Regions from separate parts of the Homo sapiens genome. Here region 2 is linked to region 1. The links come from fine-mapping of genetic effects on gene expression. A gene starts in region 1. The other region holds a variant in brackets. All regions are shown on one strand. Distances are from middle to middle. Region 1 holds the start of TGIF2 (TGFB induced factor homeobox 2). Region 2 holds the start of TLDC2 (TBC/LysM-associated domain containing 2).

Region 1 (11,835 bases):
GAGCCACCATGCCTGGCCTGTACTGAGCATTTTACATGTTATCTCATTTAATCATTACAATTCCCCAATAAGGGAGAAGCTATTATTATCATCATTTTATAGATGAGGTAACAGAGATCAAGAAAGCTGCCCAAGGCCTGCGCAGTGGCTCACACACACACACACAAAATACAAAAATAAGCCAGGTGTCATGCTGTGCATTTGTAAGCCCACCTACTTGTGGGACTGAGGCAGAATTGCTTGAGCCCAGGAGGTCAAGGCTGTAGTGAACTGTGTTTGTGCCACTGCACTTCAGCCTGGGTGACAACAAAATAAAAAAGGTCTCAAAAAACAAAGGCCGGGCACAGTGGCTCATGCCTGTAATCCTAGCACTTTGGGAGGCCGAGGCAGGCAGATCACGAGGTCAAGAGATTGAGACCATCCTGGCCAACAGGGTGAAACCCTGTTTCTACTAAAAATACAAAAATTAGCTGGGCATGGTGGCGCGTGCCTGTAGTCCCAGCTACTCGGGAGGCTGAGGCAGAATTGCTTGAACCTGGGAGGTGGACGTTGCAGTGAGCCGAAATCGTGCCACCGCACTCCAGCCTAGTGACACAGCGAGACTCCATCTCAAAAAAAAAAAAACAAAAACAAACAAAGGCCGGACACGGTGGCTCACGCTCGTAATCCCAGCACTTTGGGAGGCCGAGGTGGGTGGCTCACCTGAGGTCAGGAGTTCGAGACCAGCCTGGCCAACATGGCAAAACCCCGTCTCTACTAAAAATACCAAAAAAAAAAAAAAATTAGCTAGGTGTGGTGGCACACACCTGTAATCCCAGCTACTTGGGAGGCTGAGGCAGGAGAACTGCTTGAACCTAGAAGGCAGAGGTTGCAGTGAGCTGAGATCATGGCATTGCACTCCAGCCTGGGTGACAGAGTGATTCCCTGTCTCAACAAAAGAAAAAAATAAAAAAATAAAATAAAATAAAAATTAGCCCAGTGTGATGGTGTGCCAGTAGTCCCAGCTATTCTGAGAGGCTGAGGTGAGAGGATCCCTTGAACCCAGGAGTTCAAGGCTGTAGTGAGCTATGATCGCACCAGTGCATGTCAACCTGGACGACATAATTAAAAACCTGTTTTCAAAAATAAAATAATAAAAAAAAAATGCCACGTGCTGTGGCTCACACCTATACTCCTGGCACTTTGGGAGGCCAAGGCAGGTGGATCGCTTGAGCTCAGTAGTTCAAGACCAGCCTGGGCAACACGGTGAAACCCCATCTCTACAAAAAATACAAAAATTAGTTGAGCACGGTAATGCATGTCTGTGGTCCCAGCTACTCTGGGGGCTGAGGTGGAAGAATCGCTTGAGCCCGGAGGCAGAGGTTGCAATGAGATGAGATCACACTACTGCCCTCCCATCTGAGAGGCAGAGCAAGACCCTGTCCCCCTATCCCCCCGCAAAAAAGTCCTAAAATTGACTATAGTGATGGTTGCAAACATACCAAACCTGCTGATGAGTATACTTTAATGGGTGAATTGCATGGTATGTGAGTTATATCTCAATAAAGCTGTAAAGGAAAAAAATCCCACCCCCAGGTTAGGATAGTGAAGTCGGATTTGGACCAGGCCTCTCCCCACCCCCTCTTGTGAGCTGTATACTGTCTTGCCTCCTAGGTCTCCCAAGGGCCAGTGAGAACTCTGGAAACTACAGATCACCATGATCCTGCAGCAGTCCAAGTAATATTTAAGGAGCACCTACTGTGTACCTTGCAGTGAGAGAGGTGAGTCATCTCTCTACTGGTTGCTTCTTGGACATTCTCCTTTGTCAGGCCCCTTTAGCCTGGTCCTAGACTCAACCACTCAAAATCCAGGTGAATGAGCAAGGCCCACCCTCCACTTGGCACTGTAACTTGGACAAGGATCCTCCCCTTTCTGGGCTTGAGTCCCCTCTTCACCTGTCAAATGAAGGAAGGATTTTCCCTAGATAACCCAACTCAGCTGCTCAGTCCCTGGACAAAGTTCTGTTTCACACGTGCAACAAAGATTTTCTTTCTTTCTTTCTTTCTTTTTTTTTTTTTGAGATGGAGTCTCGCTCTGTAGCCTAGGCTGGAGTGCAGTGGCGCAATCTTGGCTCACTGCAATCTCCATCTCCCAGGTTCAAGCAATTCTCCTGCCTCAGCCTCCCGAACAGCTGGGATTACAGGTGTGTGCCACCACATCTAGCTATTTTTTTTTTTTTAGTAGAGACAGGGTTTTGCCATGTTGGCCAGGCTAGTCTTGAACTCCTGACCTCAGGTGATCTGCCCGCCTCGGCCTCCCAAAGATCTGGGATTACAGGTGTGAGCCACCCCGCCCAGCCAGATTTTCATTTTAAAAGCAAAAGTTCTAGGCCAGGCTGATGCCAGGATCTCAAGGCTCCTCCCTTCTCAGCCTTTTAACAGCTCCCCAGCAGGCCGGCCAACAGACTCTGGCATCTCCCAGGTTTTGTTTCCTCTTCTTGGACCCGAGCCCAGATCTCTGGGCTGGCTAGGCCAGGCTTTCGAGGGAAGGGTCTACCCTTTCAGTCAGGCCACCTGGAGGTGAGACAGGCACTGGTTAGACGTGCCACTCCTCAGAGAGCACCACTGCAGGCTGCTTTCTGAGGTCAGACAGCCATTTCTAGGTGGCCAGGGCAGCTGGGATCTGGGCTCAGTGATGCAGCCCTGGCCGGCTGTGAGAAGTACTCAAGGTTATCTGTACAAATTCCACCCTGGCTGCCAGCCAAGTCTGTCTGCAGGGTTCCCCGGGTGGGCCCTGGGGAATGACCCCTCAGTCTACACAAACTTCTCCACCTCGGTGTTCCGCCACACAGGGCCATCTGTAGTCTGGGAGGCTTCCCACATATGCACCCCACACCGCACCCAGACACACTCACGCCAGGCAATTAACCAACAGCGCTAGGATAACTGGCCCGGACCCATCGCTCAAGCCTTACAAACCCTAGGGTTTTCACCGACGCATACAGCACGCACACGCACAGCTTACAGACCCCAGGCCTAGCACGAACAACTGTGACCCACACAACTAGCCCAACTTCTGTACCCGCCCACCCACGAACTCCAACCGACCCGGCCACCCCCGATCTCTCCGACAGGGAAAACTCCAGGCGTCATCACACTAACAATCAGTTCTACCCTCAGTGACCTGTGGCAGCAACCCCTCGACACAACATCCCGTACACCCTCCTACAGACTCCCACGACGCCACCTGCAGCCACTCCCGCACGAACTTTCTGACAACTCCCCTAGCTGGTCCCGACACTCCCCCGGGCCGCGCACTCACGCCCGCATTCCCAGCAGTTCAGACAAAGCGCGCAACCTCCCCCGCGGCCCAGACCGAGTCGGAGCACATGGCTCCTGGGTCGGCGAGGAATCGTCCGGCGCTCGGGGCGCTTGCACCCCACAGTCCCCACACCCCGGGCCGACTCCGCGCACCAGCTCCCGCGCGGGCCCGCCATCCCGGTGGGACGGGGGCTCTGGAAGAAAGAAAACTCACGTGTCTGTCCCGGGGCAGGAAAAAGTTTGGTTCCCACCCCTACTCCGGCAGTTCGGGGCTGGCCGACTCTTCGGGGCGCGGGGACGGCGGAGCGTGCGCGCTCGGCTTTGTGCTCCGAACTGGGCCCGGAGGGGGAGGGGAGGGGAAGGGAGGGGAGGGGGCTGGGCTCCCACCTCCGCGCCGCCCCCCCCCCCCCAGCCCTGCGCCCAGACTCCATGTTGGCCGCCCCCTGCCCCGGAGACTACGCGCTTCTCCCGCGGGAGGCTTGGATCACCTTCGGCCTGCCCGAGGGTCCCGGCGCGAACAAACTTTCTCCGGGGCGCCGGCCCCACGCGCCCCGCTTCCTTGGCCAGCCTGGGAGTGACAGATGCCTCGGAGACAGACTTTCCTTTGTTCCAAAGGAAAGGGGAACTCGCGCGGGCTCCCCAGGGCCCCCCCGCTCCGGGCCCTTCCCGCGGCCCCCACCCCCAGCTGTCACTCTCGGCCGCCCCCTGTCCGGCTCGGCGGCGGGGGGGCCCTGCTGGCGGTTAGCAACGTGCACTTTTGAAACCAAACAAATCCGTCCCCCCGCGCGCTCACTCAGGTCCGGTGCAGGATCGGCCCTCTCCTGGGGTGGGATCCTATGAAGCTGGGCCCCCCACCAGGGCCCCAAGCGGGCTTCCTCCCGGGGGCTGGAACAGTCCCCCACCGGCCCCCGGAGCGCAGCGCCGTCGGGACTCACAAACACCCCCCGGGGGCCGTCGGGACTCACAAACACCCCCGAGCTCACACACCCCCTACCGCACGCGCCAGGACGACGCCCCCTCCCCGTCCGGCCGAGAAAAAGAAACTTTCCAAGTTGTCCGCGCGCCCCCACCCCCATCTGGCCCTCTGCTGCTCCCTGCACTGACTTTTCCCAGCGGCTTTCGGGTCCACGCGGCCTCCGGCTCGGCGCGGGGCGTCCCGGCGGGGAGCGGGGGGCGCCGGGGGCGCGCGCCGCGTACCTGCCCGGCCTGACACTCGGCCTGACAGCTCGCGGCTGGAAAGCACCTCGCGGCCTGACGTCAGATCCCCTCTCCTCCCCCCGCGCCCTCTGCGCCCTCCCCCACCCGCCCGGAGGGAGAAAACAAACTTTGTGCGGAGCGCGACGAGCTGCGCCCACCCCCCGCGGGGCGGGCCGTCGGCGCCGAGGGGCTTCGCCCCGCCCAGCGCGCCCGGAGGGGGCGGGGCCGCGGGCACCTTCTTCCTGCGCCCACCCCGCCCTCAGGAATGCTGCATGGCCTACCCATAGCGGCGGTGGGAGCCTCCGCCGGGGAGAGCCCGCTCGGGGGCAGGAAGTGGCCCGGCCCTCCTCGTGGAGGGCGTTTCCGGAGCGCCTACTGTGCTCCTTGCCGGGGTGGGGGTCGTTACCGAGTGGGAACTTCTGCAAATCCTGACTTTTGTCACTTCGCGCCCCGCACAAGATGTCCTGCCGGCGGTGCGATTGGTCCCGTTGCTTCGAGGGGAAACTGAGGCCACTTAGTCCGGGCACTTACCCGCAGCTAGTTAAGGACTAGGCTCTGATGGAGACGCTTGTTACGACCTCAATGGCCTGTAGAATCTGGGAGGCCGCCTCCGACCTAAGCCCAAAAAGCACATGATCGGGCTCACAGGGGGCGGCCAGAGGTGAAAACAGCCAACGCTTTACAACGACGCTGTGCGGGGCACTTCGTGTGTGTCATCCCGTCTCATCCTCGGGTGATAGGGTATGTGTTGTCCTATGTAAGTCTCTGGCTTACTCATGAGCCGCAGAGAGGTTCTTGATTTGCTTTTGTCACACAGTCAACCGGTATCATTCAGCCCAGGTCGGTCGATAGTGAAGCCTGATCCCTTACCCCTTGTGCCCGGCCTTAAACGATCAGTCCAGGAGCTCCCGGAGTTCCTGTCTGGTTTCTTTTTCCTCTTCTGCCAGTTACACCCTACTCCAGAAGGTTTTCCTTGGCCTCCCCCACCCCAGTCAGTACATTCTTCCCTGCTCTCTGCTGTGGGTACCACATACTGTGATATTTCTGTTAACCAGCCTCTTAGGGCATCCCCCCACGCCCCCCAGCCCTGTACCCGGACACGGCTAGGTCCAGATATCTAGGGCCCTTGAGCTTGGAAATCGCTTTGAAAACAGCTTTTGGACTTAATTACCCTTTAGCAATGGAGAACTCTAGGAACAAAACTCTTAATTTTTTCCAAACAAGCCTTAAGCCAATCAGAATGCTGATTAAAGATTGTTAAGGTTTCACCTGGACACCCCATAGAAGCCAGACTTCCTGCAAATGTTAAAAACCTCCTCACGGCAGCGGGTGAAATGTCAGTGGCACTGCCTGTTGCTCTCCATTTCACAGACAGGGAAAATAAGGCCCAGAGTGTGGGTCAGAAACAATTTTTTTGGCCGGGGAAGTGGTGCTCCCCCCACGGCCCTGTGAAAGAAAAAGCCACGTCTGGGTTGCCTTAGGTAAGAAATGTAAAACCAATGGGCCTTGGCCTCTAGGAAATGTATGGGACAGGGACCTTCAGAAGAGGGGAGCCCCAGGGGGAAATGGGTGCGACCAGGTGAGCCTGGAGAGGGGGCTCTGGTAGTGGCTGCTGAGCTTGAACTCCGCACTAGGCGTTTTTCTCCTGTATGCGTAAGAGCCACATTCTGCCCTTTCTGGGGAAGCCACTGGGGGCCTGGGCTAGAGGAAGAGACCGCACCGTAAATTGTGCCTGCAGCAGCCCCTTAGACGAGTGTTTCCCAAGTCTGGTGCTAGATGTGGTTGGGAAAATGGAAGCGGGGGAGTGCTGCCTCCTCCTCCACCTGAGAGCTGCATAACAAAGACCTGGAGCCCCTCCTCTCTCCTGGAGGACGGGGTAGTGGTGGAGGGAGGCTGGTAGCCGGTCAGATTTTGCACGTAAGCAAGCTTCACAGATAAAGCCTAAGTGCAATTAGAGTTTGAGAATTACCGTGTCAAGTTTCTGAACTAGTAAGTATCAGAATTTAAAATGTGTAGATTCTCTAAGACAGTAATTCCACTTCTAGGAATCTGTCTTTTGAAGTAGCTGTACAACAAAGATAAATGCTTATAGAAGATTGTTCTTTGCAGAACTGTTCATTCGGGAAAATTGCAAACAACTAAATACCCCTCACCAGGAGCTGGCCCATTATAGCAACTCTGAGACCTCTCTACCGCAGGCTCTTAAAATGGGGTAAGTTGGTGCGCGCTAATGTAGGGGCATGACCAAGGTATATTTATTGACAGCTTACAGTGTCCCAACAAGGAGGGACTTTGGACATAGTTGGTGAGAACTTTAGTGGGAAAACTTTTTCCAAGTGATAAGTTATTGTCATTTTTCTCTCCCCTACTTTCTTTTTTCTTTTTTTTTTTTTTTTTGAGACAGAGTCTCGTTCTGTCGCCCAGGCTGGAGTGCAGTGATGCGATCTCAGCTCACTGCAACCTCCACCTCCCAGCTGCAAGCGATTCTCCTGCCTCAGCCTCCTGAGTAGCTGGGACTAAAGGCGCCCACGCCCACCACCGTGCCCAGCTAATTTTTGTGTTTTTAGTAGAGACTTGAGTTTTGCCATGTTGGCCAGGCTGATCTTGAACTCCTGACCTCAAGTGATCCACCGCCTCAACCTCCCAAAGTGTTAAGATTACAGGTGTGAGCCTAGCTTTCTCCTCCTCTTTCTAAATTAAAAAGAAATATTGTGATAAGAAGCTCCTCCTACCTTTTTTCCCCATGTTTGAAGAAACTGGGTTGCTAAGGGAAGAAAAGACTTGCCTAATAGGAGTTTGGGGTCCTGACCCCTGGAAGGGAGCTGGGGATAGACTAGGAGAGGAAGGAGAGGTGGAAAGGCATCCAAGCCCAGACCAGCCTGGCTGCCCAGGTCATCTAAGTCAGTTCCCTGCCTCCGTACCAGAAAAACCCAAACCGGAGGCTCTTGGATGTGAGGCTCCAGGTTCATCCTGCCAGTTTCTAGTGAACTTGGTGATCACATAGGTTTAAATGAATAAATCCACTTTTGTTAAAAAAAAAAAAAAGTGAGCCGCTTCCTTTTTTTTTTTGAGACAGAGTTTCGCTCTTGTTGCCCAGGCTAGAGTGCAGTGGCGAGATCTCGGCTCACTACAACCTCCGCCTGCCAGGTTCAAGTGATTCTCCTGCCTCAGCCTCCTGAGTATCTGGGATTACAGGCATGCACCACCACGCCCGGCTAATTTTGTATTTTCAGTAGAGACGGGGTTTCGCCATGTTGGCCAGGCTGGTTTTGAACTCCTGACCTCAGGTGATCTACCTGCCTTGGCCTCCCAAAGTACTGAGATTACAGGTGTGAGCCACCACACCTGGCCACCGCTCCCTTTTTGATGGAAGTGGGGAAAGGCACCAGCATTCACTGAGAATCCATATGAGCCAAGTTGCATCTCAGGATAAAGGAGAAGATGGGCTTCTGTGGGGTAGAGGGAAGAGTCCAACAAAGGCCAGGGAGGGTGAAAGTGTTCAGGAAACAACTGGATTGGTTGAGATGGAAGGGCTGTGAAGGCCAGGATGAAGAATTTGGATTTGGCAGTGTGGGCAGTAGAGAGCTCCAGCTGGTTCCTGCGGAGAGCTGGGGAGAGACTGGAGGGAGGATAGTTGGTGACTCAGCTCTGGATAATTGAGGCCGAGCGGATGGAGACCCGCCTCTGAGATCTAGGGAGATTTGTGGCTGTTATGTGAGGTTCTGCATTTTCATCTAATGTTGATAAGTGGAATTCCACATCTTCCTCCTGAAAAGTCTTGCAGTGTCTTGTTGGTCAACCACAATTTGCCTAGCTTTCTCCTAGTTGTTGGGTATTTACTCACGTAACTAATTTCTGAGTGCCCACCTGTGTCTGGCTGTGTGCCTATGGCTGGAAAACCTACAGCCAAGCTTACTCCTGAAGGCTTTGGGCGACAGTGCCTTGCGGTGGGAAGGCTGTGGCCCTGGGACTTGGTTACTAGCCAGGTGATTTAGGAAAATCATCCACACCTTCTGAACCTCCCTTTTCTCATGTTGTGGAAACACAAGGCTTCGGTGAGAGTCAAAGAAAACAGGCACACCCCTTGTTTCATTGTGCCTTGCTTTTTTGCGCTTTGCAGGTACTGCGTTTTTTTCAAATTGAGGGCTTTTGGCAACCCTGTGTCGAGCAAAGTCTACCAGCATTATTTTTCCAAAAGGATGCTCAGTATGTGTCTCTGTGCCACATTTTGGTAATTCTTGAAATATTTCAAAGTTTGTTATTATTATATCTAGTATGGTGATCTGCGATCAATAATCTTTGATGTTACTATTGTAATTGTTTTGGGGCATCATGAATGATGCTTGTGTAAGACGGTAAACTTACTCCATCAATATTGTATGTGTTCTGACCGCTCCACCAACCAGCTGTTTGCAATTAGTAATCGTACAGTGGCCTCTAAGTGTTCAAGTGTAAGGAAGAGTTGCAAATCTCTCACTTCACATCAAGAGCTAGAAATAATTAAGCTCAGTGAGAAAGGCATGTTGAAAGCCAAGATAGGCCTTTTTTTTGTTTTTTTAGTTTTTAGTAGAGACGAGGTCACGCTATGTTGTCCAGGCTGGCCTCCAACTCCTGGGCTCAAGTGATCCTCCTGCCTCAGCCGTCCCAAGTGTTGGGATTAAAGTTGTGAGCCACCATGCCCCGCCTCTGGAGTAGCACTTTTAATTTCACTCAAGAACAATTGGCTGGGCGCGGTGGCTCACACCTGTAATCCCAGCTACTGGGGAGGCTGAGGCGGGAGAATTGCTTGAATCTGGGAGGCAGAGGTTGCAGTGAACTGAGATCACGCCACTGCACTCCAGCCTGGGCGACAGAGCAAGACTCTGTCTCAAAACAAACAAACAAAAACTATCTGGCTAGGTCTGGTGGCTCATGCCTGTAATCCCAACACTTCGGGAGGCCGAGGCAGGGGAAGGTCTCTTGAACCCAGGAGTTTGAGGCCAGCCTGAGCAACATAGCAAGACCCCCTCTCAACAAAAAATAATCAGCTGGGCATGGTGGCGAATGCCTGTAGTCCCAGCTACTTGGGAGGCTGAGGTGGAGGAAGGCTTGAGCCCAGGAGGTTGAGGCTGTGGTGAGGTATAATTGTGCCACTGTACTCCAGCCTGCGTGAAAGAGTGAGACCCTGTCTCAAAAATTGGCCAGGCGCAGTGGCTCATGCCTGTAACCTGAGCACTTTGGGAGGCCAAGGCAGGTGGGATCACTTGAGGTCAGGAGTTCGAGACCACCCTGGCCAACATGGTGAAAGCCCATCTGTACTAAAAAGAAAAAAAAAATACAAAAATAAATAAAGAAAAAGGTGCTATTTCAGTGAACACAGTAATAAGAAAGGGAACAGCCTTATTGCTGATATGGAGAAAATTTGAGTGGTCTAGATAGATGATCAGACCAGCGACAACGTTCCCTTAAACCAAAGCCTAATCCAGAGCATAAGCCCTAACTGTCTTCAATTCTCTGAAGGCTGAGAGAGCTGAGGAAGCTGCTGAAGAAAAGTTGGAAGCTATCAGGCTTCAGTAGGCTTTTTTTTTTCTTTTTTTTTTTTTTTTTGAGACGGAGTCTTGCTCTGTCGCCCAGGCTGGAGTATAGAGGCATGATCTTGACTCACCACAACCTCTGCCTCCCGGTTTAGGCGATTCTCCTGCCTCAGCCTCCCGAGTAGCTGGGATTATAGGCGCAGGCTACCACGCCCAGCTAATTTTTCGTATTTTTAGTAGAGATGGGGTTTCACCATGTTAGCCAGGCTGGTCTCGAACTCCTGACCTCAAGTGATCTGCCCACCTCGGCCTCCCGAAGTGTTGGGATTACAGGCGTGAGCCACTGCACCCGGCCAATTTCTGTATTTTTAGTAGAGATGGCGTTCCACCATGTTGCCCAGCCTGGTTTCAAATTCCTGACCTCAGGTGATCCGCCTGCCTTGGCCTCCCAAAATGTTGGGATTACAGGTGTGAGCCACTGTGCCTGGCCTGGAATTTCTTTGATGAGAGCTATGCCTTGACAGTCTCATTTTTCCATTGTACTAGAAGGTCTGGGGCCCTGGGAGCTAGTGCGGCATGAAGGCCTGAGTGGGCTCTGTGCCTTGCTGACAGTGTTCCCAAGCTGAGTGGAGGAAGACTAAGGGTCTGGATATCCTCAACACTGAGTACATGAATTTCTGTGTAACCCTTCTGTTGTTGCTGTCTTCTCCTCTCCTGTGCCTGGTGTTCATCTGTCCAGGACCTTCTGTATTCTTTGGATAATAAATTTCTGATCTCTTGTCGGGTCTAGGTTGCAGCCTTCATAGGATCTAGGAGTCCACTGCTTTTTTTTCTTTTTTCTTTTTCTGAGACAGAGTCTCGCTGTGGTGCAATCTCTGCTCACTGCAACATCCGCCTCTCAGGTTCCCGTGATTCTCATGTCTCAGCCTCCCAAGTAGCTGAGATTACAGGCGCCCGCCACCACACCTAGCTAATTTTTGCATTTTTAGTAGAGACATGGTTTCGCTGTGTTGCCCAAGCTGGTCTTGAACTCCTGAGCTCAAGTGATCCACCTGCCTCGGCCTCCCAAAGTGTTGGGATTAAAGAATAGAGATAAGGGAGGCACAGAGGGGCTAAGTAACACCTGAGGTTATAAAACTGGTCATTGGAGGAGGTAGGATTTTATTCCTGAAAGGTTAATGGTAATATTATCGTCTCCATTTCTGACTCTAGTAATTTCAAGTCTTTTTTCTTTTTTTCTTGGTCAGTCTAGCTGAGGGTTTGTCAGTTGCTTTGACTTTTTTCAAAGAACCAACTTTTGGTTTTATCAATTTTCTCTATTGTTTTTCTGTTCTCTATTTCATTCATTTCTGCCCCAGCATTTATTGTTTCTTTCCTTTTGCTTACTCCTGCTTTTGCTCTTCTTTTCTAATTTTTCTGGTATCTTAAAGTGGAAGGTTAGATTATTGATTTACAATCTATATTTATTTATTTACTTTTTTCTTTTCTTTTGAGACAGAGTCTAGCTCTGTCCCCCAGGCTGGAGTGCAGTGGCGCAATCTAGGCTCACTGCAAGTTCCGCCGCCATGGTTCACGCCATTCTCCTGCCTCAGCCTCCCGAGTAGCTGGGACTACAGGCACCCGCCACCACACCTGGCTAATTTTTTGTATTTTTAGTAGAGACGGGGTTTCACCGTGTTAGCCAGGATGGTCTCAATCTCCTGACCTCGTGATCCGCCTGCCTCAGCCTCCCAAAGTGCTGGGATTACAGGCGTGAGCCACCGTGCCCGGCCTACAATCTTCATTTTTTTTTTAAATAGGCACATATGGGCCAGGTGTGGTGGCTC
Region 2 (11,835 bases), 300 kb before region 1:
GACTATAGGCATACACCACCACACCTGGCTAATTTTTTTGTGGTTGTTGTTGGTTTTTGGTTTTGGTTTTGGGTTTTTTTAGAGACAGGGTCTGGCTATGTTGTCCAGGCTGGTCTTGATCTCCTGGACTCAAGCCTCCTGCCTCAGCCTCCCAAAGTGCTAGGATTACAGGTGTGAGCCACCGTGCCCAGCACCCCCATAGTTTCTTCTGCTTCTGAGGATGAAGATGCAGTTTTACAGTCAAATGATTATTTGCTTAATGTCTGACCCTTCCCCTATTAGACCATTAGCTCCAAGAGAGCTGGGACCTCTTCTGGGTTGATTCTGCTCTATCCCACCTCTCACCTGGCACACAGAAGGCGCCCCATGTAGATGTGTTGAATGCATAAATGGGGGAATGGCTCTGAGTGGGCAGGTCTCATTGCCATCATCAGTGTCCATTATAGGTGACTTAGTCTGTCACTCTGCCTGCTTGTCCCTGAGCTGCCCTGGGACAGGGCCCATGAGTACCTGGTGGGGTGCCCCCAGAGCCTCGGGTGGTGCCCCTGCCCAGCTCACCTGCCCGTCCTGGTCCCTGAGCACCAGCAGCACTGGCCCGCTGCAGCCCTCCATCCGCCGGTACAGGCTCTGCAGGCTGAAACCGTCCCTTGACGTGCAGAAGACCAGACTCCAGGGATGGCCGGTGACTCTTGGTGGGAAGTGAAAGCTGAGCTGGGGACAGGGTTGGAGGTGAATGGAGGAGTTCTCCTCGCGCCCTCCTGCCATATCCTGGGGGTGGGCTTGGACAGCTAGCATGCATCCAGCACAGTGCTTTACAGGCGATAGAGCAGTTTGCTGTTTCTAGGGACTTTCATGCCATCAGCCATAGCCCTCGGAGATAGGGGTTGTTATTCCCATCTTATAGATGAGGAAACTGAGGCCCAGGGAGGGTGGAACAACTAGCCCAAAGCTCGCATGGGTAGTGAATGGTAGAGACAGGATTTGAACCCAGGTCAGGACTCTCAGGACTCTTTCTGCTTGGTCACCCTTGCCCCCAGAGGCTAGAGAATAGGAAAGATGCTGAACCCTCCTCCTGATCCTCCGTCTCATCCGCCCACCCCTCTCCAGCTTTGGCCTCAGTTCCCAAGGGCTGGTTCTAGGTAGGAATTAGTTTCTTTCCTTTTTTTCTTTTGAGACAGAGTCTCACTCTGTCACCCAGGCTGGAGCAGAGTGACACAATCTCAGCTCACTGCAACCTCCGCCTGCTGGGTTCAAGCAAATCTTGTGCCTCAGCCTCCCGAGTAGCTGAGACTACAGGTGCACACCACCACACCCGGCTAATTTTTGTATTTTTAGTAGAGACAGGGTTTTGCCATGTTGGCCAGGCTCGTCTCCAGCTCCTGGCCTCAAGCGATCCCCCTGCCTTCGCCTCCCAAAGTGCTGGGATTACAGGCGTGAGCCACCGCGCCCGTCCTAGCCTCTTTCTTTACCTCCTTAACCTCCTGGCCCAGTGTAGAGGGAGGTGCTAGCAACACTGGATGATTTTACAAGAAGGGAAAGCAAAGCCCCGAGAGAAGAAGCAATTTGCCGGAGGTAACGCATGATGAGAACAGAGCAAGAGTGACTCTAGGTGCCCCTGGGCGTGGCTGGTGTAGGGCAGGAGGGTGAGACTCTTAGGTTTAGGGCTGAAATTCTTGTGCCATGGGCAATGCCCAGACCTGCCGAATCTCTGAGGCACTCAAAACCTGGCTGGCTTCTGTCAGCTGGGGCACCGTGGGATCCTCAGGAGCAGCAGCTGGGTCTGGAGCTGCCTCCTCCTCCTCTTCCTCTTCGTTACCCTCCTCCCCAGACAGGGTGTCCTCCACCTGGCTGGGCTGCAAAAACACAAAGTGGCCTGGTGTGTCCAGGGACAGGAGGTCCCAGCTTCTACCATCTCCTGAGCCCAAGAGCCTCCTCGGGCCACCTCATCACTCCCTGCCCATGTGCCTGTAACCCCCAGCCCAGCCCAGGGTAGTTGGGGGTTTCCACGACAGACAGGACGCTGCCCCTGCCGCCAGCCTGCTTCCTCCCTGGCCCCTGCCAGCTGAGGGCTGGAGCACAGTCCCCCCACCCCCGCCAGCACCCCACAAGGCTCAGATGGGGCCGTGGGCCGTGCGACTTGTCGGTCTGTTTGCCATGGTCCTGGGTGGGTGGCAGGGATCAAGTTCTAAGCTTGGGAGCAGAGGGGAAGGCAGGTGGTGGCATAGCCCTGGGAGCTTCAATTGTGTGTGTTTGTACATTAAATAATAACAACAAAAAACCCATCCTTGCCCAGGCCTGTGTTCAGTGTGCACTGTCTGTGATCTCTGTGTGTTTCTTCTTCTTTTTTCTTTTTCCTTTTTTTTTTTTTTTTGAGACAGGGTCTTGCTCTGTCACCCAGGCTGGAGTTCAGAGGTGCAATGTCAGCTCACTGCGACCTCTGGCTCCCAGGTTAAAGCAATTCTCTTGTCTCAGCCTCCCAAATAGCTGGGATGACAGGTGCCCACCACCATGCCTGGCTAATTTTTGTATTTTTAGTAGAGACACGGGTTCCTCCTGTTGGCCAGGCTGGTCTCGAACTCCTGACCTCAGATGATCCACCTGGCCTCCCAAAGTGCTGGGATTACAGGCGTGAGCCACCGCGCCTGGCCTTCTGTGTATTTCTTCTTATCAGCATTTTCCAAAGGAAGAAAATGAAGCCCAAAGGTTTCCCCATGAAGCCCGTGAAATGATGCATGCAGTCATATGTGGGATCATACATGTAGGTTCATGTAAAATGTGTTTGTCTGTGCGAATTGTGTGTTGGCTTGGAATAGAGTTGTGTAGGCACATCAATGTGTGGAGGTATTGAGTGTAAATTTGTGTTTATATATCAATGTGTTTGTGTGAGTTGTGATGGTGTAAATATCTACATCCATAAGGGGCATCATTATTCACTCATTCATTCATCCGAGCTTCCACTCTGTACCAGAGTGTGTGTGTGAGTGTGTGTGTTTGAATGTGTGTGTGTCTGTATGTGTGTTTGAGTGTGTGAGTGCATTTGAGTGTGTATGAGTGCATTTGAGTGTGTTTGAGTGTGTGAGTGTGTGTGTTTGCATGTGTATGCGTGTGAGTGTGTATATGTTATATGTATGTGTATGTGTGTGCCTCCACACAATGACCTTGCAGGCTTTTCCCAGGAAGAAGAGACCTCTCAAGGGCTGAGAGATGGACAGGACCCCCTCTCCTGCCCCGCTCTGTTCTCCAGGCTCAGGCCTGAGGCAGGTCTAGCTGTGTGTGGCTCTGAACAGAGCTCCATCCAGCACCCACTCCAGGGAGGAAGGGACAGAGACATCGGTCTGTCCCCCTTGAGAACCTTGGAGCAGGGGTGTTAAGACCCCATGTTCCTGAGTCAGTCCTTGCTCCAAACCACAGGCCTGCCAGGGAGGGACTTGAGAGGGGAACAAGTCACTGCCCGCATCCAACCCTAGCCCAGGCCCCACCCTGCCAGAGACCTCACCTCCTTTCACCTCCCAACCTGCACCACAGACGGAGTTGGAACCCTTACCAGCCGAGTGTAACGCCAGCGGAGGCCTCTCATTCTCCTGTCCCTGCTCAGCCGGCCGTGGGCAGTGAGTGAATCCTCAGCCCTGCCCAGGAAGGAAGCGCTGATAGGTGAGGCCTAGAGATGAGAGGGAGAGGCCTGGGGCACACCCAGCCAGCTCCATGCCCACGCCAGCTGCCCTTTGCTCCCTCTCACCTGTCACTCCAGGCCGAGCTGCTGCTGGGTGAGTCTGTGAGCAACTCGGCATTCAAGACCTCATTGCAGTTAGCATGTAACACGTATTAACCATACACCATAGATTCTGGTTGCAATTCCTTTCTACCTCCTTGTCCTTCTGGCAGCCTGGCCTTGGGACTGTGGGCCATTGGCCAGATGCCTAAGGCCCAGGCTGGAGGTCTGGGGCCTCTAGTTCCCCGTATGACCTTGGATAAGCCCATTTGCACTCCTGAGCCTCAGTTTCACCACACACAACATGTAACATGTTGAACCAGATAATCTCAGAAGACTTCGCGGGACTGACAGTCTGCCATTCACTTCCCTCTCCAAGCCGATGAGTGTGTTAGAACAGAAGCTAGAAGGGGGCATGCCTAGACTGAAAGAACAATCTGGCCCAGTGCAGTGGCTCATGCCGGTAAGCCCAGCACTTTGGGAGGCTGAGGGAGCCGTATCACTTGAGTCCAGGAATTTGAGACCAGCCTAGGCAACATGGTGAAACCCTGTCTCTACAAAAAATATAAAAATTAGCTGGGCATGGTGTCGTGCGCCTTAATCCCAGCTACTCGGAAGACTGAGGTGGGAGGATCACCTGAGCCTGAGAGGAGGAAGCTGCAGTGAGCCGAGATCATGCCACTGCACTCCAGCCTGGGCAAGAGTGAGGCCTTGTCTCAAAAAAAAAAAAAAAAAAAGCTATTTTTACTTTGCATCCTAAACACAGATGTATTTTAGGCTTTCATCATTGCTTTGCTTGTCATTTAACAGAAAGTTTCTTTATTAAGTCTTTGTTTCTTTTTCCATATTTAGTTTCAGATGGGGGTGGGGGGAACAGATGAATTTCTTTTTTTTTTTTTTTTTTTGAGTCAGAGTCTCACTCTGTCGCCCAGGCTGGACTGCAGTGGCATGATCTTGGCTCACTGCAAGCTCTGCCTCCCGAGTTCACGCCATTCCCCTGCCTCAGCCTCCCAAGTAGCTGGGACTACAGGCACCCACCACCACGCCTGGCTAATTTCTTGTATTTTTAGTAGAGACGGGGTTTCACTATGGAACATATGAATTTCTAAATTGAAACATAAATAAACTTTTGTTAATGTTCAGTAAAAAAAAAAAGAATAGATTTTAAAAGGTGTTTTGTTTTGTTTTGTTTTTTGAGATGGAGTTTCACTCTTATTGCCCAGGCTGGGGTGCAGTGGCGTGATCTGGGCTCACCGCAACCTCTGCCTCCCGGGTTCCAGTGATTCTTTTGCCTCAGCCTCCACCCAGCTAATTTTGTATTTTTGGTAGAGATGGAGTTTCTCTATGTTGGTCAGGCTGGTCTCGAACTCCTGACCGCAGGTGATCCGCCCGCCTCAGCCTCCCAAAGTGCTGGGATTACAGGCGTGAGCCACTGGGCCCGGCCCAAGCTTTTTTTTTTCTAATTAAAAAGTGATATTTAGATATTGTAGAAAATTTGAGAAACCGGAAAAGAATAAGAATATAAAAATATTCACAATTCCATCTCTCACAAATAAACTCTCAACCCCCAAAGGTATATTTGCAAAGGGCTCACATTATGTGTTCATACCATATTGACCACACAGTGTTTTTGTTGTTTTTGTTTTTGAGACAGAATCTTGCTCTGTTGCCTAGGCTGGAGTGCAGTGGTGTGATCTTGGCTCACTGCAACCTCTGCCTCCCAGGTTCAAGTGATTCTCCTGTCTCAGCCTCCCAAATAGCTGGGATCAGAGGTGCGTGCCAAAACACCCAGCTAATTTTTGTATTTTTAGTAGAGACGAGGTTTCTCCATGTTGGTCAGGCTGGTCTTGAACTCCTGACCTCAGGTGATCTGCCCTCCTCGGCCTCCCATAGTGCTGGGATTACAGTCATGAGTCACCGCGCCCGGCCGACCACACAGTTTTATAAAATACTTTTTCTACTAACAACAATCGAGAATTCTCCAAGATACCCTACGCTCTTGGAATGCATGATTCCTCGAGTGGCTGCGTATTATTTCATCACAGGACATTCATAACTTATTCCCCCTGCTGTTGGACATTTTGTTTACTTCTAATTTTCTCTAATTATTAGCAAAACTGCAATGAACG[T/C]TGTTCATAAATCTGACTGTATCCTTTATGATAAATTTCAAAAGTTGAATGCTGGATCAAAGGCCATATGCATAGTTCTTGATAAGTGTTTCCAACAAGGTTACCCAGGTGCTTAAAGTTGACCCATGTCCAAGTACTTTTAGGGAAGCTCAAGGTAATATCTTTCTGGTCATCAAACCTTATGACCCTCGGACTAGAGATAAGGAAACTGCCATTCAGAAAAGGGAAGGAACTCATCACAGTCACATGAGTGTAGGACGGCGGTTAAGAGGACAAGCTCTGGAGTCAGAGAGTTCAAATCCTGGTTTTGCCACTTTCTTTGCTGTGTGGCCTTGGGGAAATTACTTTACATCCCTGTGCTTCAGTCACCTCACCTGTAAATATTAATATCTACATCTACATCAGGGCTGTTGTAAGAGTAAATGAAGATAAAGCCTAGAGAGCTAGGGTGTTAAGCCAGGCATCCAACCTCCTGACCTCAGTTAGGTGAGATAACAGTACCTTATGTTGTTTGTGGGTGCTGGGTGAGTGGCAATACTTATTACAATCCCCCCACACTGACTCTTTGAGAGTCTAGGGCTCGAATCCCTGACAAGTGACCCCTCAGCCTCCACCTGGGTGCCTCTGGGACAGGCAGTCCCTTGGTCAGTTGCAGGGTGAGGAGCTCAAAGGGTGAAGGGAAATAAGGGAGCTGTGGAAGGATGTACTCACCCTGCCTTTAGCGTATCTCCCTGATCCCCAGAGAGGGGGCCACACGGGCACTGACCCTGCCCACCTGGTGGTCTGTCTGCGGCAGCTAGCTCCAATCCCTGGTCCCTGGGTAGGTGGCTGGCCCCTCTGACCCAGACTCCAGGCTCTCCTCCCTAGCTCTTATATCTGCCCAGAGGGCGGCAAGCCCTGGCCCTGTGCCCACTCTGGTTCCAGCTGGGAAGGCCCAGCAGTGATTATGATACATCAGAAACTCAAATCCCACAAGCACACACAAACAAGACCTTATCATCCCCCGGCACCCAGCTCTGCCCCCAACAGCCCAAAGAGGTGGGGATAGCAGGCACATTGGCTCTCCTGAAGCCTCTCACCACAGCTGCCAGATGCCAGGTCCTGGTGCTTGATGCCCACCACTGAAGACTATTCCCTTGAGGTTAAAATCTGCAATATGGCTGGGCACGGTGGCTCACACCTGTAATCCTAGGATTTGGGGAGTCTCAGGTGGGAGGATCGCCTGAGCCCAGGGGTTTGAGAACAGCCTGGACAACATGGCGCAACTCCATCTCTACAAAAAAATTTTAAAAATTAGCCAGGTGTGGTGGCACATGCCTGTAGTCCCAGCTACTTGGGAGGCTGAGATGTGAAGATCACCTGAGCCTGGGAAAGTCGAGGCTGCAATGAGCCAAAATCACATCACTGCACTCCAGCCTGGGCAACAGAGTGAGACCCTGTCTCAAAAATAAAAGAAAATAAAATCTCTGATCTACAAACACTACAGGAAAGGGTGAGGTTGTGGGGTTCTCCGTCAGTCACCCTGTGCTCCAGGGCCGGCAGGCTCGGCCCCTGCTGGTTTCCTCTCAGATGAGATGAGGACGTTTCTCACTGGACTGTGGTGACATTAGGCGAGGTCACACACAGGAAGCTATGTTTGGCAGGCAGTAGACGATCCATTGAAGAGGGGGCTACTTCTCTGTCCCCAGCTCACAGTAAGATCTCAATGACTGCTCTGTTGTTGACTCACAGAACTTCAAAGCTGGAAAGGGCTTCAGTAGCCTGCCCCTGGGATGGGAATCCCCTGGGGAATGTGCCCAGGTCACCGGCCTGTTAGGTGGGTGAGCCCACCGTTTCACAGGTAGCTTGTGCCATCTTTTCACAGCTGAAAGAGACCCTATTCTGCTGGTCTTGGTGGAGAGGACATGGGTCCCCAGATGCCCTGCTCGTGGCCGGGTGTCCTGGGGCAGTGTTCCCTCCGGGAAGTGTGGGATGCCAAAAGGACGTGTATTATGGGGAAAACAAGTAAGCAAAGGGCCCTGTTGCCACCTCAAACATGGCTGTTGCAATGTGTGTTTAAGCTGTAAATGGCTTGGGGCTCACATGCCTAGCACTTCTTGCCACCCCTCCTCCAAGCTCAACACCTGAACCACTGAGCACTTTGAGAAGCCAATGGGGTTTGCCTTACTGTCCCATTCTGTGTCCTCATGGTCAGGAAAACTCAGCGTGTGATCTGGCAGGAACATCAACTGCCACATAACCGGCTGCTAGAAAGCTTCCGTGATGGAGGCTGGGTACAGTGGCTCATGCCTGTAATCCCAGCACTTTGGGAGGCTGACGTGGGCAGATCACCTGAGGTCAGGAGTTCAAGACCAGTCTGGCCAACAAGGCGAAACCCTATTTCTACTAAAAATACAAAAAAAAAAAATTTTAGCTGAGTGTGGTGGCGCATGCCTGTAGTCCCAGCTCCTTGGGAGGCTGAGGCAGGAGAATCGCCTGAACCCAGGAGGTGGGGGTTGCAGTGAGCCGAGACTGCACCACTGCACTCCAGCCTGAGCGACAGAGCAAGACTCTGACTCAAAAAGAAAAAAAAAAGGCTAGGCGCAGTGGCTCATGCCTATAATCCTAGTACGTTGGGAGGCTGAGGCAGGTGTATTCCTTGAGGTCAGGAGTTCAAGACCAACCTGGCCAACATGGCGAAACCCCGTCTCTACTAAAAATACAAAAAAATTTAGCCGGTTGTAGCGGTACACACCTGTAGTCCCAGCTACTTGGGAGGCTGAGGCAGGATACTCGCTTGAACCCAGGAGGCAAAGGTTGCAGTGAGCTGAGATTGTGCCACTGCACACAAGCCTGGGCAACAGAGCAAGACTCTGTCTCAAAAAACCAAAAAAAAACAAGAACAAAAATCTTCTATGATGGAATTCCAGATACCAGAGGGCCTAGCAGATGTCTGGACTCTGCCTTGAAGTTTACCTTCTTTTTATATCTTTATTTATTTATTTATCTTACTTTATATTTGAGACAGGGTCTTGCTCTATTACTCAGCCTGGAGTACAGTAACATGATCATAGCTCAGTGCAGCCAGTCTCCTGGGCTCAATCCTCCTGCCTCAGCCTCCTGAGTACCTAGGACTACAGGCATGCGCCATCATGCCCTGCTAATTTCTTTTATTTATTTATTTTGTTTTTGTAGAGACGGGGTCTCGCTATATTGCCAAGGCTGGTCTTGAACTCCTGGTCTCAAGTGAGCCTCCCACCTCAGCCTCCAGTGTTGACATTACAGGTGTGAGCCACTGCACTCAGCCTATTTTAATTTTTTTTTTTTTTGGACGGAGTCTTCTTCTGTCACCCAGGCTGGAGTGCAGTGGCTTGATCTTGGCTCACAGCAACCACTGCCTCCTGGGTTCAAGCGATTCTTCTGCCTCAGCCTCCCAAATAGCTGGGACTACAGGCCTGTGACACTATGCCCAGCTAATTTGCATTTTTTTTTAGTAGAGACAGGGTTTTGCCACGTTGGCCAGGCTGGTCTCAAACTCGTGACCTCAAGTGATCCACCTGCCTTGGGCTCCCAAAGTGCTGGGATTACAGGCATGAGCCACTGCACCTGGTCCAGCATGGGAGTTTTGATCTGCTATTTCTGACCTGGGCCAGTTCACTCCTCCTTGGGCAACCTAGTGGTCCCTGCTCCGGGGGAGGTCACCATGCTGATGCTAAACTTAGTGCAGACACCAAATCAGCATAGCACACTCTAGCCCAGAACTCCAGGGTTCAAGCCATTGTCTTGCCTCAGCCTCTCGAGTAGCTGGGACTATAGGCACTGCCACTGCGACCAGCAATTTGCCTTCTCCATTCTTCTTGACCAGACCTCATGCTGCCTCTTTCAGAACTGCAATAGTCATCCAGGAAAAAATTTAAGTGTCTAATAAAAGGGGGAAAGGTGAAGTGATTCATGGAACATCATCCATTCAGTGGATTATTTCTGTGTTGTTGTTGTTGTTGTTGTTTTGACAGTTTTGCTCTTGTTGCCCAGGCTAGAGTGCGATGGCGTGATCTCGGCTCATCACAACCTCTGCCTCCCGGGTTCAAGCAATTCTCCTGCCTCAGCCTCCCAAGTAGCTGGGATTACAGGCATACGCACCACCACGCCTGGCTAATTTTGTATTTTTAGTAGAGGCAGGGTTTCTCCATGTTGGTCAGGCTGGTCTTGAACTCCCAATCTTGGGTGATCTGCCCGCCTCGGCCTACCAAAGTGCTGGGATTATAGGCATGGGCCACTGCGCATGGCCCAGTGGATTATTTCTTTCTTTCTTTTTTTTTTTTTGAGACAGAGTCTTGCTCTGTCTCCCAGGCTGGAGTGCAGTGGCGCGATCTCGGCTCCCCGCAAGCTCCGCCTCCCGGGTCCCTGCCATTCTCCTGCCTCAGCCTCCCTAGCAGCTGGGACTACAGGCACCCGCCACCACGCCTGGCTAATTTTTTTGTATTTTTAGTAGAAACGGGGTTTCACCGTGTTAGCCAGCATGGTCTCGACCTCCTGACCTTGTGATCCGCCCACCTCGGCCTCCCAAAATGCTGGGATTACAGGCGTGAGCCACCGCGCCCAGCCCAGTGGATTATTTCTAAGTATGAAGAGTGATGTTTGCAAAGAGCTTATAAATGTGTTATAAATGTGTGGGGATATGCTTCTGCTACCCTGTTAAGCGAAAAAAGCAGGATACAAAATTGCATAGGCAGTAAGATTTCAGCTATGCAAAAGAAACTTGAAATTAGCAAAGAGAAAATGACTAAAAGGGAATACACCCGGTGTTCACTGGGCTGACTGGCTCCCCTTTGAACTTCAGGTGAGTATAAGATGACCAGACACTCCCTGACATGTCCCAGAAGGTTTGATTTTCACTCTCTGAGATCTCTTCTTTCTCTTACTCTGAATGGCTGGCAACTGCATTCTTCATTGAGAAAACAGAAGTGGGCCAGGCACAGTGGCTCATAACTGTAATCCCAGCACTTTGGGAGGTCGAGGTGGGTGGATCACTTGAGGTCAGGAGTTTGAGACCAGCCTGCCCAACACGGTGAAATCCTGTCTCTACTAAAAATACAAAAGTTAGCCAGGCATGATGGCGGGCACCTGTAGTCCCAGCTACTTGTGAGGCTGAGGCAGGAGAATTGCTTGAACCCAAGAGGTGGAGGTTGCAGTGAACTGAGATGGCATCACTGCACTCTAGCCTGGGCGGCAGAGTGACACTCCATCTCAAAAAAAAAAAAAAAAATTAGCTAGGCGTGGTGGCACGCACCTGTAATCCCAGCTACTCGGGAGGCTGAGGCAGGAGAATCATTTGAGCTTGGGAGGTGGAGGTTGCAGTGAGCTGAGATCGTGCAACTGCACTCCAGCCTGGGCAACAGAGTGAGACTCTGTCTCAAAAAAAAGAAAGAAAAAAGAAAAAGCAGCAGCCGGGCATGGTGGCTCACACCTGTAATCCCAGCACTTTGGGAGGCCAAGGCAGGCAGATCTTGAGGTCAGGAGTTAGAGACCAGCCTGGTCAAAATAGTCAAACTCCGTCTCTACTAAAAATACAAAAAAAAATTAGCCAGGTGTGGTGGTGGGCGCCTGTAATCCCAACACTCAGGGGGCTGAGACAAGAGAATTGCTTGAACCTGGGAGGTGGAGGTTGCCGTGAGCCAAGATCACACCACAGCACTCCAGCCTGAGCAACACTGTCTCAAAAAAAAAAAAAAAAGGCAAGGCCCTAACTGTTCAGTGGCTCCTTGAATAACTCAGTTTAGGCCAGGCACAGTGGCTCACACCTGTAATCCCAACACTTTGGGAGGCCGAGGCGGGTAGATCACAAGGTCAGGAGATCGAGACCGTCCTGGCTAACACAGTGAAACCCCGTCTCTACTAAAAATACAAAAAAATTAGCCAGGTGTGGTGGCGGGCGCCTGTAGTCCCAGCTACTCTGGAGGCTGAGGCAGGAGAATGGCGTGGACCTGGGAGGTGGAGCTTGCAGTGAGCCAAGATCGC

The links. PIP is the estimated chance that this variant, and not a neighbour inherited with it, causes the effect. A credible set is the group of variants that fine-mapping cannot tell apart.
Region 2: its variant is the best candidate, but not a certain one, in a credible set for the expression of TGIF2 in T cells (TOPMed, PIP 0.60).

Annotation. Positions count from the first base shown.
Region 1 is chr20:36,566,314-36,578,148 of GRCh38, reverse strand. TGIF2 (TGFB induced factor homeobox 2) reads right to left here and starts at 4,552. Exons shown (of 3, transcript NM_021809.7): 1 at 4,404-4,552. It overlaps TGIF2-RAB5IF (TGIF2-RAB5IF readthrough), which reads right to left and starts at 3,634. Exons shown (of 5, transcript NM_001199535.2): 1 at 3,514-3,634. DLGAP4-AS1 (DLGAP4 antisense RNA 1) reads left to right here and starts at 4,874. Exons shown (of 5, transcript NR_109939.1): 1 at 4,874-5,237; 2 at 6,606-6,708. RefSeq lists silencers at 4,196-4,365, 4,436-4,525, 4,556-4,875 and enhancers at 5,376-5,435, 6,054-6,606.
Region 2 is chr20:36,867,917-36,879,751 of GRCh38, reverse strand. TLDC2 (TBC/LysM-associated domain containing 2) reads right to left here and starts at 3,614. Exons shown (of 7, transcript NM_080628.3): 1 at 3,545-3,614; 2 at 1,698-1,853; 3 at 559-711. The coding sequence starts at 3,577. It also overlaps the pseudogene RN7SL156P. RefSeq lists an enhancer at 7,264-7,770. The variant T/C (reference allele first, on the strand shown) is at 5,839.